Linked DNA regions of Homo sapiens: region 1 is linked to region 2. Evidence: fine-mapped expression QTL. A gene starts in region 2. The other region holds a variant in brackets. All regions are shown on one strand. Distances are between the middles of the regions.

What was found. PIP is the estimated chance that this variant, and not a neighbour inherited with it, causes the effect.
Region 1: its variant is fine-mapped to the expression of ZNF707 in prefrontal cortex (BrainSeq, PIP 0.95).

Annotation. Positions count from the first base shown.
Region 1 is chr8:143,634,200-143,639,571 of GRCh38, forward strand. ZNF623 (zinc finger protein 623) reads left to right here and starts at 1,820. Exons shown (of 2, transcript NM_001261843.2): 1 at 1,820-1,946. The variant C/T (reference allele first, on the strand shown) is at 2,380.
Region 2 is chr8:143,681,613-143,686,984 of GRCh38, forward strand. ZNF707 (zinc finger protein 707) reads left to right here and starts at 2,867. Exons shown (of 6, transcript NM_001100598.2): 1 at 2,867-2,930. RefSeq lists a silencer at 442-667.

The sequences.
Region 1 (5,372 bases), 47 kb before region 2:
AGAGAGAGACTCTGTCTCAAAAAAAAAAAAAAAAAAAAAGTATTAAGTGCCAAGCTGCAGCCATGTGTTAGCTGTTGGTGGGGTTGAAGTGGCAGGCGTCAGGTGTACAAGGCAGATTTTGATCTGTGACAACCTGCTCAGGCGGTGTTCTCAAGCTCTTTGGGCCTGCGGACAGGGAGGCTGAAAGGTCTGTAAGCCCTGTGGGGAAGAGGCCTCAAGCCCTTCTCGCCTTAAGAGCTGGGTCCCATGGTAAGCTGGCAATAGGGTTGCAGCAGCCAAGGTCTCCGGGCCTGGATGAGAGGTGGGGTCGCTCAATGTAGGGCTTTCACACACACCCCTGGAACACAGAAGCCTTTCCAAGAGCCGGGGAGCCCCTGGAGAATCACAGCAGGAGTTCCACATGGATTCTGCCCTGGAATTCCTGTAGAAGGTCCTTGGATGAGGGCACGCGCCTAGCGTGTCCCCCTTGGCCACAGCTCCTTCTCCCACGTTGCTTCTCTTCCTTTATTCACCCTGGTACCTGGCCTTGGTACCTGGGCTGTCCTCCTCATCAAAGGGACAATTCAAAACTCTGCAGTTGATTTTAAGAAAGTAGGTGAATTTATTGGCTGGGAAAGACTTCATGTAGTTTTGCACTTTAGGTTACTTCTAATTCTTTGTTTGCTTCTGTCAAAATTTAAAAAGGACCTATTCAAGTGGTCAACTGACAGGTCATTAAGTACACTTGGTGATAAACTGCTGTTATGTTTTTTGCATATAAGTCAGAAAGAGCTAAAGAAATTGAGCGTCGGCTGGGAACAGCGGTTCACGCCTGTAATCCCAGCACTTTGGGAGGCCAAGGCGGGTGGATCACGAGGTCAGGAGATCAAGACCATCCTGGCCAACAAGGTGAAACTCTGTCTCTACTAAAAATACAAAAATTAGCTGTGCGTGGTGGCGCATGCCTGTAATCCCAGCTACTCCAGAGGCCGAGGCAGGAGAATCGCTTGAATCAGGGAGCCATAGGTTGCAGTGAGCAGAGATCACGCCACTGCATTCCAGCACTCCAGCCTGGTGACAGAGCGAGAGTCCATCTCAAAAAATAAAAATAAAAATAAATTGAGCGTCATTGCTAAAACAAAATTCCTCCCAATCCTATCTAACAATTTAGGTAAACAAGTTTCCTCAGTGCTAGCAGAAAAATGGAAAAAGAAAACCCAAAATACGAATATAATGTTTTTTTGGTGGGGGGGGGGGGCAGGGGAATGTAATTATTTCGATTATTTCGGACTGTGACTCATTCTAGCAATGAGTAATGTCTACCAAGAATCAATGAGCCGGCGCGGTGGCGCGCGCCTCTGGTCCCAGCACTTTGGGAGGCCGAGATGGGAGGACCACCTGAGCCCGGGAGGTCGGGGCTGCAGTGAGCCGAGATCGCGCCACTGCACTGCAGCCTGGGCGACAGAGCGAGACCCTGTCTTAAAAAAACCAAAACCCGAAAACCAAAAAACTCCACAGCGCGCCGCTTCCCCACTTCTCTGGGGCGCAGAGAGGTGAAGTTTGGCCCTCACGGTATTTACTTCCCCTGGATCCTCGCCTCCTGAGAAGCTGGTCTTGGGCTGCGGTCGGACCTCGCCGCGAGCTCCAGACCCGAGTTTCCGAGCCCGCGCTTCCCGGCCCGCAACCCTCCCAACCGCGTAGCAACGCCGCTCCTGCCGGACACCCCTGGCCCCTCCGGGGGTCTTAGTCCCCGGGCCCGGAAGTCCGCACCACTGAGAGGGGAGCCGATCCCTGGCGCTCCTAGAACGGCGCAGGAAGTTTCCCAGGCGGGGCCTCTCGCGACTTCCGGTCGCGGCGGGCTGGCGGCGGTGCAGGCTTTGTCGGCTGATCTGTGGGGCCCGCGCCGGCGGGGTCCAGTCAGCGGCTGCAGGGTCGGGCTCGCGCCGTCCTCTCCCCGCCCGCGCCGGGTGAGTGGCGCGTTCCGGACGGGGGCGGGCAACGCCTTAGCCGCAGCCCCGGCTGGCTCCGGAGCCCGGCCGCCTTGCCAGGGCACAGTCCGCCGAGAGGGCCGGGCGGGGTCCGCAGGCCGCTGCCCGCCCCGCTAGGGCGTCCAGGAGCGGGGCCTTGGCTAGTCAGTCTCCCGGACGCAGCCACGGCCGCCCCCGCGAGGCTGCGGCGTCTCTCCAGCGAGCCCGCCTCGGGCCCGAGCCTGGGGTCTTGTCCCTGAGGAGCGCCGTGTGGGTACCCCTGGTTCCCTCTCCTTCCCCCCGCCCTGAGCCCAGGCCGGAGAGCCGCGGGCTTGAGTGTCCGTGTCGCAGTCTTCAGGTCCGCCAGGCCTGCGTGAGGTTGATGCCGCAGACATGTTTTACGGTGTGGCAGGACTGGGTGTGGGCGTTCCCG[C/T]GGCTGTGCCTGAACCCTGCCTCCGCTCCCTGGGGCCTCGAGGCCTCTCGGTGCTGGAGGAGATGCAGCGCCAGCATCTTCTGTGCTGTTGGGGATAGGGGTGGGGAGGGAAACATGATGAGCAGAATTAGAATTAAGTACAAGACTTGGACCTGGAGAATTCCCAGATGGGGAGAGGTGGTGTGGCTACGCTGTCCTGCTTTTTCTTGAAGGTACCCTTTTCCCTTCGCGTCTTTAAGAATCCCAGTGGCGTTCTCTGTGCTTCTGTCAAGGCTGTCTTGCTCCCTTCACACACAGGCTACGTCATGGTCCAGGGACTCTCAGGGTCTGGGCAGCGCCTGGATGCTGGCCTCAGACTCATAGGTAGTTGGTGTGAAGCAGCTCAGGGAGCTGCCGAGCTTGTCTTCGCTGCCTCAGGGTCATGGAAGATGACCCAGGAGAGGACACAGGGGGCTCGTCGTTGTCCTTGGGCAGAGCCCTGAGCAGCATGCCGGTAGCAGAAGCCAAATGGCCTGGGTGGGGCGGGGGCAGTTGACAGCTGGCTCCAGTTCTCTGACCTTACGCTTCTTACCTCCCTGAACTTCCGGGGCATCGTGGGGAGCACTAGGAACAGAAGCGCTCCCTGCCTAGCCTGTGGCGCCCAGTAGGCCCCTTGGTGTGGCGCGGGGCAAGGAGGTCCAGATGTTAGTGGAGCTCTAGTCCACGTCTCACTCGGTTGCCCTCTGGTTCTGCTTTTCCTGTTTCCTGAGGGTGAAGCTTGGTGTATCCTGTTAATTTCTTCAGGCTGTAAGCAACACACAGTGACTCTGGCTGGGAGCTTGAGGCTGGAATTTCCCCTTACCAGTGTGGGTGCAAGAGCTGGGGGCTTCTAATGCCAGATGGGACACCCCTAGACACCCCAGAGCTGCTGTGGCTGCTGATGATACACAACATCTGCTGTTGAGACAATTTCAAGTGATATTTATTTATTTATTTATTTATTTATTTTTGAGACGGAGTCTTGCTCTGTCGCCCAGGCTGGAGTGCAGTGGCATGATCTCGGCTCACTGCACCCCCTGCCTCCCGGATTCAAGTGATTCTTCTGCCTTAGCCTCCTGAGTTGCTGGGACTACAGGCACACGGCACCACGTCCGGCTAATTTTTGTATTTTTAGTAGAGACGAGGTTTCACCATATTGGTCAGGCTGGTCTTGAACTCCTGACCTTGTGATCTGCCCACCTCGGCTTCCCAAACTGCTGGGATTACAGGCGTGAGCCACCGCGCCTGGCCTCAGGTGATGTTTTATCCAGCAAATTCTGTGTTACAACAGGAGATGGGTCCATGCTAGTCAGTTTGTTGTGTGGAGCCACAAGTCAGGTGGCTTCCTTTTTTTTGCATTTCATGTCAGTTTCTTTAAATGAAAATGTATTGATTTAATTTTACTTAAATTCATACAAGAAAAAGTTAAGCAAAAACTGAAGATAGCTATTTCCTTTTTGAGATAACTGTTTCTTCAAAGCAAGATATTTGCAATTTTAAAAACTTTCTCTAGAGGCGGGCAGATCATGAGGTCAAGAGTTCGAGACCAGCCTGACCAACATGGTGAAACCCCATCTCTACTAAAAGTACAAAAGTTAGCCAGGTGTGGTGGCACGCCCCTGTAATCCCAGCTAGTCAGGAGGCTGAGGCAGGAGAATCACTTGAACCTGGGAGGTGGAGGTTGCAGTGAGTGGAGACCATGCCATTGCACTCCAGCCTGGGCGACAGAGTGAGATTCCGTCTTAAAAAAAAAAAAAAAACTTTCTCAAAAGTTAAAAAAATTATGAAAATTATTAAGAGGCACACATATGGTTTTAAGATATGTTCTTGTAAACAGAAACACCCTGTTTCTGGCCGGCCGTGGTGGCTCACACTTGTAATCCAATCCCAGCACTTTGGGAGGCCGAGGTGGGTGGATCACCTGAGGTCAGGAGTTTGAGACCAGCCTGGGTAACAAAGTGAAACCCCATCTGTACTAAAAATGCAAAAAAATTAGCCGGGCGTGGTGGCAGGCGCCCATAATCCCAGCTACTTGGGAGGCTGAGGCAGGAGAATCGCTTGAACCCACGAGACAGAGATTGCAGGGAGGTGGAGATTGCAGTGAGCCGAAATTGTGTCACTGCACTCCAGCCTGGGCGACAGAGTGAGACTCTGTCTCAAAAAATATATATATATATCAAATAAAAAAAAATAAACAGCTTGTTTCCAGGTAGTATAACAGCCATTTTAAAATTTAAAATCAGAAGGTATCAACTGAGTTCCAAAACAAGAAACCAACATCTCCACCCCACCGTTCTCCCACTTCTTTTTTTTGAGATAGAGGTTTGCTCTTGTTGCCCAGGCTGGAGTGCAATGGCGCGATCTCAGCTCATTCCACCCTCTGCCGCCCAGGTTCAAGAGATTCTCCTGCCTCAGCCTCTCGAGAAGCTGGGATTACAGGCGTGTGCCACCACACCTGGCTAATTTTGTATTTTTAGTAGAGATGGGGTTTTACCATGTTGGCCAGGCTGGTCTCGAACTCCTGACCTCAGGTGATCTGCCTGCCTCGGCCTCCCAAAGTGCTGGGATTACAGGCATGAGCCACCATGTCCGGCCCACCCCCTTTTTAATTTATTTTTATTTTTATTTATTTATTTTTGAGATGGAGTTTCGCTCTTGTTGCCCAGGCTGGAGTGCAATGGCGTGATCTCAGCTCACTGCAGCCTCCACCTCCGCCTCCTGGGTTCCAGTCATTCTCCCGTCTCCGCCTCCCAAGTAGCTGGGATTACAAGCATGTGCCACCATGCCCAGCTAATTTTGTATTTTTAGTAGAGACGGGGGTTTCTCCATGTTGGTCAGGCTGGTCTCGAACTCCTGACCTCAGGTGATGTGCCTGCCTAGGCCTCCCAGAGTGTTGGGATTACAGGCGTGAGCCACTGCATCTGGCCTGTCTTTTTAAAATACAGACTGTGTTTCACCATGTTGACCAGGCTGGT
Region 2 (5,372 bases):
AGGATCCAACCTCTCCCAGAATAGCCAGGAGGCAAAACTGGCGAAAGGGGACCACATGGGGCTGGATTCTGCTTGGGAGCTGCTGGTCGAGGCACTGAGAACTTGTCCCCAGACCTCACCATGGCCACCTGTCCAGCCCCGATTCCAGAGGCTCAAAACCAAAAACATAAGTAACAGCAAATCAACAAGTATTAAATTATATGTAACTAACAATTTTGAAGACATTCCTATTGACATAGGATGTTGTTCTCAGTCATTCTGCAAGCCAGGGACCTCCGGCCAGCGACGCCCCGCCAGGGCCTCGCTTGACACACTACCTGCTGCAGGAGACAGCCCGTCAACTCCCCCGAGTTCCCGAATGCTTGTCCACGGCCAAGAAGAATGAGGAGGCTCTGACAATCGAAGAGTGAGCAAGGCGGGGAATTTCACTGGGTGACGGGGCAGCTTTCAGTGGAGAGGGGACATGGCGTGGTCCCCCTACATGAAGGCAGGAAAGTTCCCCATGTTATGGACTCAGAATGGGGAGGGCGTGCTGATTGGTTTGTGAGTAATGCAAAAAAGGTTAAAGCAAAGGCACCACTGAAAGGTGGGCATGACAGTGTAGAAAGCCAATTAGAAAAGGGTAGGTATATGTAAAATAGGTGAAGGGTGGGACCAATCAGAGGAAAGTGCGCCAGACAGGAAGACAGGCTCTCAATCCGGTCTGAGGATTCGACTTGCAGCTTGGCTTTCAGGCTTTAAGCTGTTTTCAGCGTCGAGGTGGAGGTTTCACTGGGGACCTGCCCCCATTTGGCTGGGCATTTGGCTGCCTGCCTCCTGTCGCTATCACTCCTTTACTAGTGAGGACTAAACTGATCTTTTTCTCTCTTGCTCAAGTTCTTATCTAAAGGGCCTGGGGAGTCTGCCCTACAAACCATAAAATGTCATCAGATAGGTTTTATTTAACCCTATATAATTGGCTTAGTTTCCAACCTGACTCTAGCATAACGTCACATGACAGATAAAGGAAATCAAAATATTTTACTCTTTTTTTTTTTTTTTTTTTGAGACGGAGTCTCACTCTGTCGCCCAGGCTGGAATGGAGTGGCGCGATCTCGGCTCACTGCAAGCTCCGCCTCTGGGTTTCACACCGTTCTCCTGCCTCAGCCTCCCGAGTAGCTGGGACTACAGGCGCCCGCCACCATGCCCGGCTAATTTGTTGTATTTTTAGTAGAGACGGGTTTCACCATGTTAGCCAGGATGGTCTCGATCTCCTGACCTCGTGATCCACCCGCCTCGGCCTCCCAAAGTGCTGAGATTACAGGCGGGAGCCACCGTGCCCGGCCTATTTTACTTTTAAATATATTTCTTGGCTATACTTTGGATGCTTTCAGGTCATAGGTGGATTCAAAGATTTTCTGATTGGCAATTGGTTGAATAAGTTAAGTGATTACCTAAGACCTGGAATCTATAGAAAGGCGTGTCTAGGTTTGAACAGTTGGCCACCCTTGTGTGGGTGGAGTATTACATAGGTGCCTAGGCAAGAGACTGAAGGCACAAACTGTTTCAGTATAATAAAGAAAATAGTTAGAATAAGAATAGTCATAATACAAATTAGATATAGAGATGACCATGAACAATTATCAATCATTATTATAAACATTATTAATCATTAGCTTTTACCATTACTCTTTGTTGCATTACTAATATAACCTAGGAATAACCGGCGGATATAGGGTCGGGTGCTGAAGGGACATGGTGAGAAGTGACCTAGAAGGCAAGAGGTGAGCCTTCTGTCACTCCCACATCAGGGCTGCTTGAGGGCTCCTTGGTCAAGCCCTAACGCCAGTGTCTGGGAAGTCACCCGTTGCTTAGTAGACTGCGAAAGGGAGTCTCCTTTCCTTGGAGGAGTCAGGGAACACTCTGCTCCACCAGCTTCTTGTGGGAGGTTGGATATTACCCAGGCCTGGCCGCAGTCATCCGGAGGCCTAAACCCCTCCCTGTGGTGCTTCAATGTTCACGCTCCTTGTCCACTTTCGTGTTCCTCCTGTACTCCTGGTTCCTCTTTGAAGTTCGTAGTCGATAGCGGTAGAAGAAATAGTGAAAGTCTTAAAGTCTTTGATTAATGCTAACTTATGCTGCCTTCTCTCTCTGCTTCCGCTACCTAAGAGGGAAGGGCCCCCTGTCCTGTAATCATGTGACTTGCTTCACCTTGTCAATCACTTAGAAGATTCACCCTCCTTACCCTGGCCCCTTGTCTTGTATGCAATAAATATCAGCGCGCCCAGCCGTTTGGGGCCACTACCGGTCTCTGCGTCTTGATGGTAGTGGTCGCCCGGGCCCAGCTGTTTTCTCTTTATCTCTTTGTCTTGTGTCTTTATTTATTACAATCTCTCATCTCCGCACACGGGGACAACACCCGCTTAGCCCCGCAGGGCTGGACCCTACACCCTTGATTGGCTGGAACTGGGTGACTGGCAGGAGAGCAAGTGACAGTCTGTTCACACCTCCAGTTAGGTTACAGTTCACTTTGTAGGATAAACCTTTAGGCCGACTTTAGGTTATGAGGGCCGGGATCGGTGGTTCACGCCTGTAACCCCAGCACTTTGGGAGGCCAAGTCAGGCGGATCACCTGAGGTCAGGAGTTCAAAACCAGCCTGACCAACATGATGAAACCCCCGTCTCTACTAAAATTACAAAAAAATCAGCCGGGCGTCGTGGCGCTTGGCTGTGACCGGGGCGGGGCCTGCCGGCTGCGGCGGAACCACAAGCGGTGCGGGGCGAGGCGGGCGGCCTGGACGGCCTGGAAGGCCAGCGCGCACCACCGAGACGTGGGCTCCTAGAGGGGCCGGAAGCTTTCGGATAACAACTTCCGCTCGGGAAGTTTGTAAAAGTCTGGGCTACCGGCGCGGCGTAGTGGATGCAGCATCCTAGTGGAGGACGCCCCTGTGGTGAGTGCGCCCGTGTCCCCCGCCGCCCCTCCGTCCCTGGGTCGTGGGCTGTCAAACCTTCTAATTCTGCGGCCGCCCCAGGGCTGTGAGACCCAGCGTCGCGGCTGCTGGGACAGACCGGGGAGGCTGCCCGTGCCCTCGGCTATTCGGGGGCTGTTCTTCAGCTTCTTCCGGCTCGGCCTCCTCTTCTCTCCTCGCTCCTTACACTTGCAGGTTTGTCAGGACCCGGTTGCGTATCCTCTTGAAGCTGGTTTCTTCCTGGCCGACCCCGTCCGCGATCGTGACCTTAGTTATCCCTCATAGACACTTTCCACACCTGTGTCTCCAGCCCTATCGCTCCGATGAGACCCGAGCGCTTAGACTTGATTCATAACACCCAAAGCTCCCCGGCCCCAGGCTGAGCTCCTGCAACCTCCACACCCCACCCTCTGGTCCTCCCAGGCATTCCACCGCGAAGGGGAGGAGGCAGAAACCCGAGATTCGCTTCTTCTCCTTTCCTGCCCACGCCCAGCCACACAGTCACTGGTGCGTTAGCTCCATAACTGAACCATTTGCCTCCTTGCCATTCCCACCCTGTAAGTCCCAATCCTGGCCGTCTTCCTCTCTCACCTGAACGCCTCCCTGTCTTCTCCCCACCCCCATCCTGTTTTGCTGCTTTCTCATTTGTTCATCACAGAGGATCTTTTATAAAATGTAGCTTAGCCAGGCAAGGTGGCTCCCGCCTGTAATCTCAGCTCTTGGGAGGCCGAGGCAGGTGGATCACTTGAGTCCAGGAGTTCTAGACCAGCTTGGTCAGCATGTTGAAACCTTGTCTCTACAAAAAATACAAAAATTAGCCGGGTGTGGTGGTGCACGCCTGTAATCCCAGTTACTCTGGGGAGGCTGAGGCAAGAGAATCGTTTGAACCCAAGAGGCAGAGGTTGCAGTGAGCAGAGATCGCGCCACTGCACTCCAGCCTGGGCGACAGAGCGAGACATCATCTTATTAAAAAAAAAAAAAAAAAAAAGGTAGCTTAGGCCGGATGCTGTGGCTGACGCCTGTAACCCCAGCACTTGGGGAGGCTGAGGCCAGAGGATCTCTTGAGGCCAGGAGTTTGAGATCAGTCTTGGCAACATAGTGAGACCCCGTTTCTGCAAAAAACTTAAAACAATTGCAGGGCATGTTGGCACATGCGCTTTTGGTCCCAGCTACTGGGGAGACTGAGGTGGGAGGATCACTTGAGCCCAGGAGGTCGAGGCTGCAGTGAGCTGTGATTGCACTACTGCATTCCAGCCTGGGTGACAGAGCAAGGACCTGCCTCAGAGAAAAAAAAATCCTGTGTTAATTTGCCTAGGGGAAAAAAAGTAGCTATGACAATATCCTTCTGTTCTCCCGTATTAAACTTTGTTGCATTACACATGAAACCACGGCTCAGGAGGCCTTGAGGAATCTGGCTTTAGCCCCTTTCCTGGCCTATCTCACGGTTCTCCCTGACTCTGCTTTCCAGGCTGGGAAGCCCAGTCCAGGTTGTGCAAACACAGCTGTTGAGCTGAGGGGAGAGGGTGTTTTTTTTTTGTTTTTGTTTTTGTTTTTTTTGAGATCGTCTCGCTCTGTCTCCCAGGCTGAAGTGCAGTGGCATAATCTCGGCTCACTGCAACCTCCGCCTCCCGGGTTCAAGCAGTTCTCCTGCTTCAGCCTCCCAAGTAGCCTGGCTAATTTTTTGCATTTGTAGTAGAGATGGGGTTTCACCATGTTGGCCAGGCTGGTCTCGAACTTCTGACCTCAGGTGATCCACCTGCCTCGGCCTCCCCAAGTGCTGGGATTACAGGCGTGAACCACCGCGAATGGCCGGGAGCTGTTATTTTTATCACTGTGGTCATTGCTACTTGCTAGAGGAACTCAGCAAGGTGTTCTAATTGGAAAACACCACCCATGACCCATGTGCTCAGTGTGCCTTTTCATGTTTTTATAGACCGTTGTATAACTTTGGTTGAAGTGTCTGTTCTAATATTTTGCCCAGTTTAAATTTTATTTCTCTTTTTTATTGATTTGTAGGAGTTACAATTCTTTATATAAGTCCTTTGTCAGATACATGTATTGGGAATATTTTCTCTTAGTCTGTGGCTTACCTTTGTGTCTCTTTTTAGAAAAAAAAATTTAAACAATAGAGACAGAGGTCTCCCTATGTTGCCCAGGCTGGTCTCAAACTCCTGGCCTCAAGCAATCCCCCTGCCTTAGCCTCCCAAAGTGCTGGGATTACAGGCGTGAGCCACTGCACCCCGTCTCCTTTTTTTTTTTTCTTAACTGCCTTGGTAAACAAAAATTTTTAATTCTGATAAATCCAATTTGTGATTTTTTTTTTTTTTTGAGACGGAGCTTTGCTTTTGTTGCCCAGGCTGGAGTGCAATGGCGCGATATCGGCTCGCCGCAACTTCTGCCTCCTGGGTTCAAGTGAATCTCCTG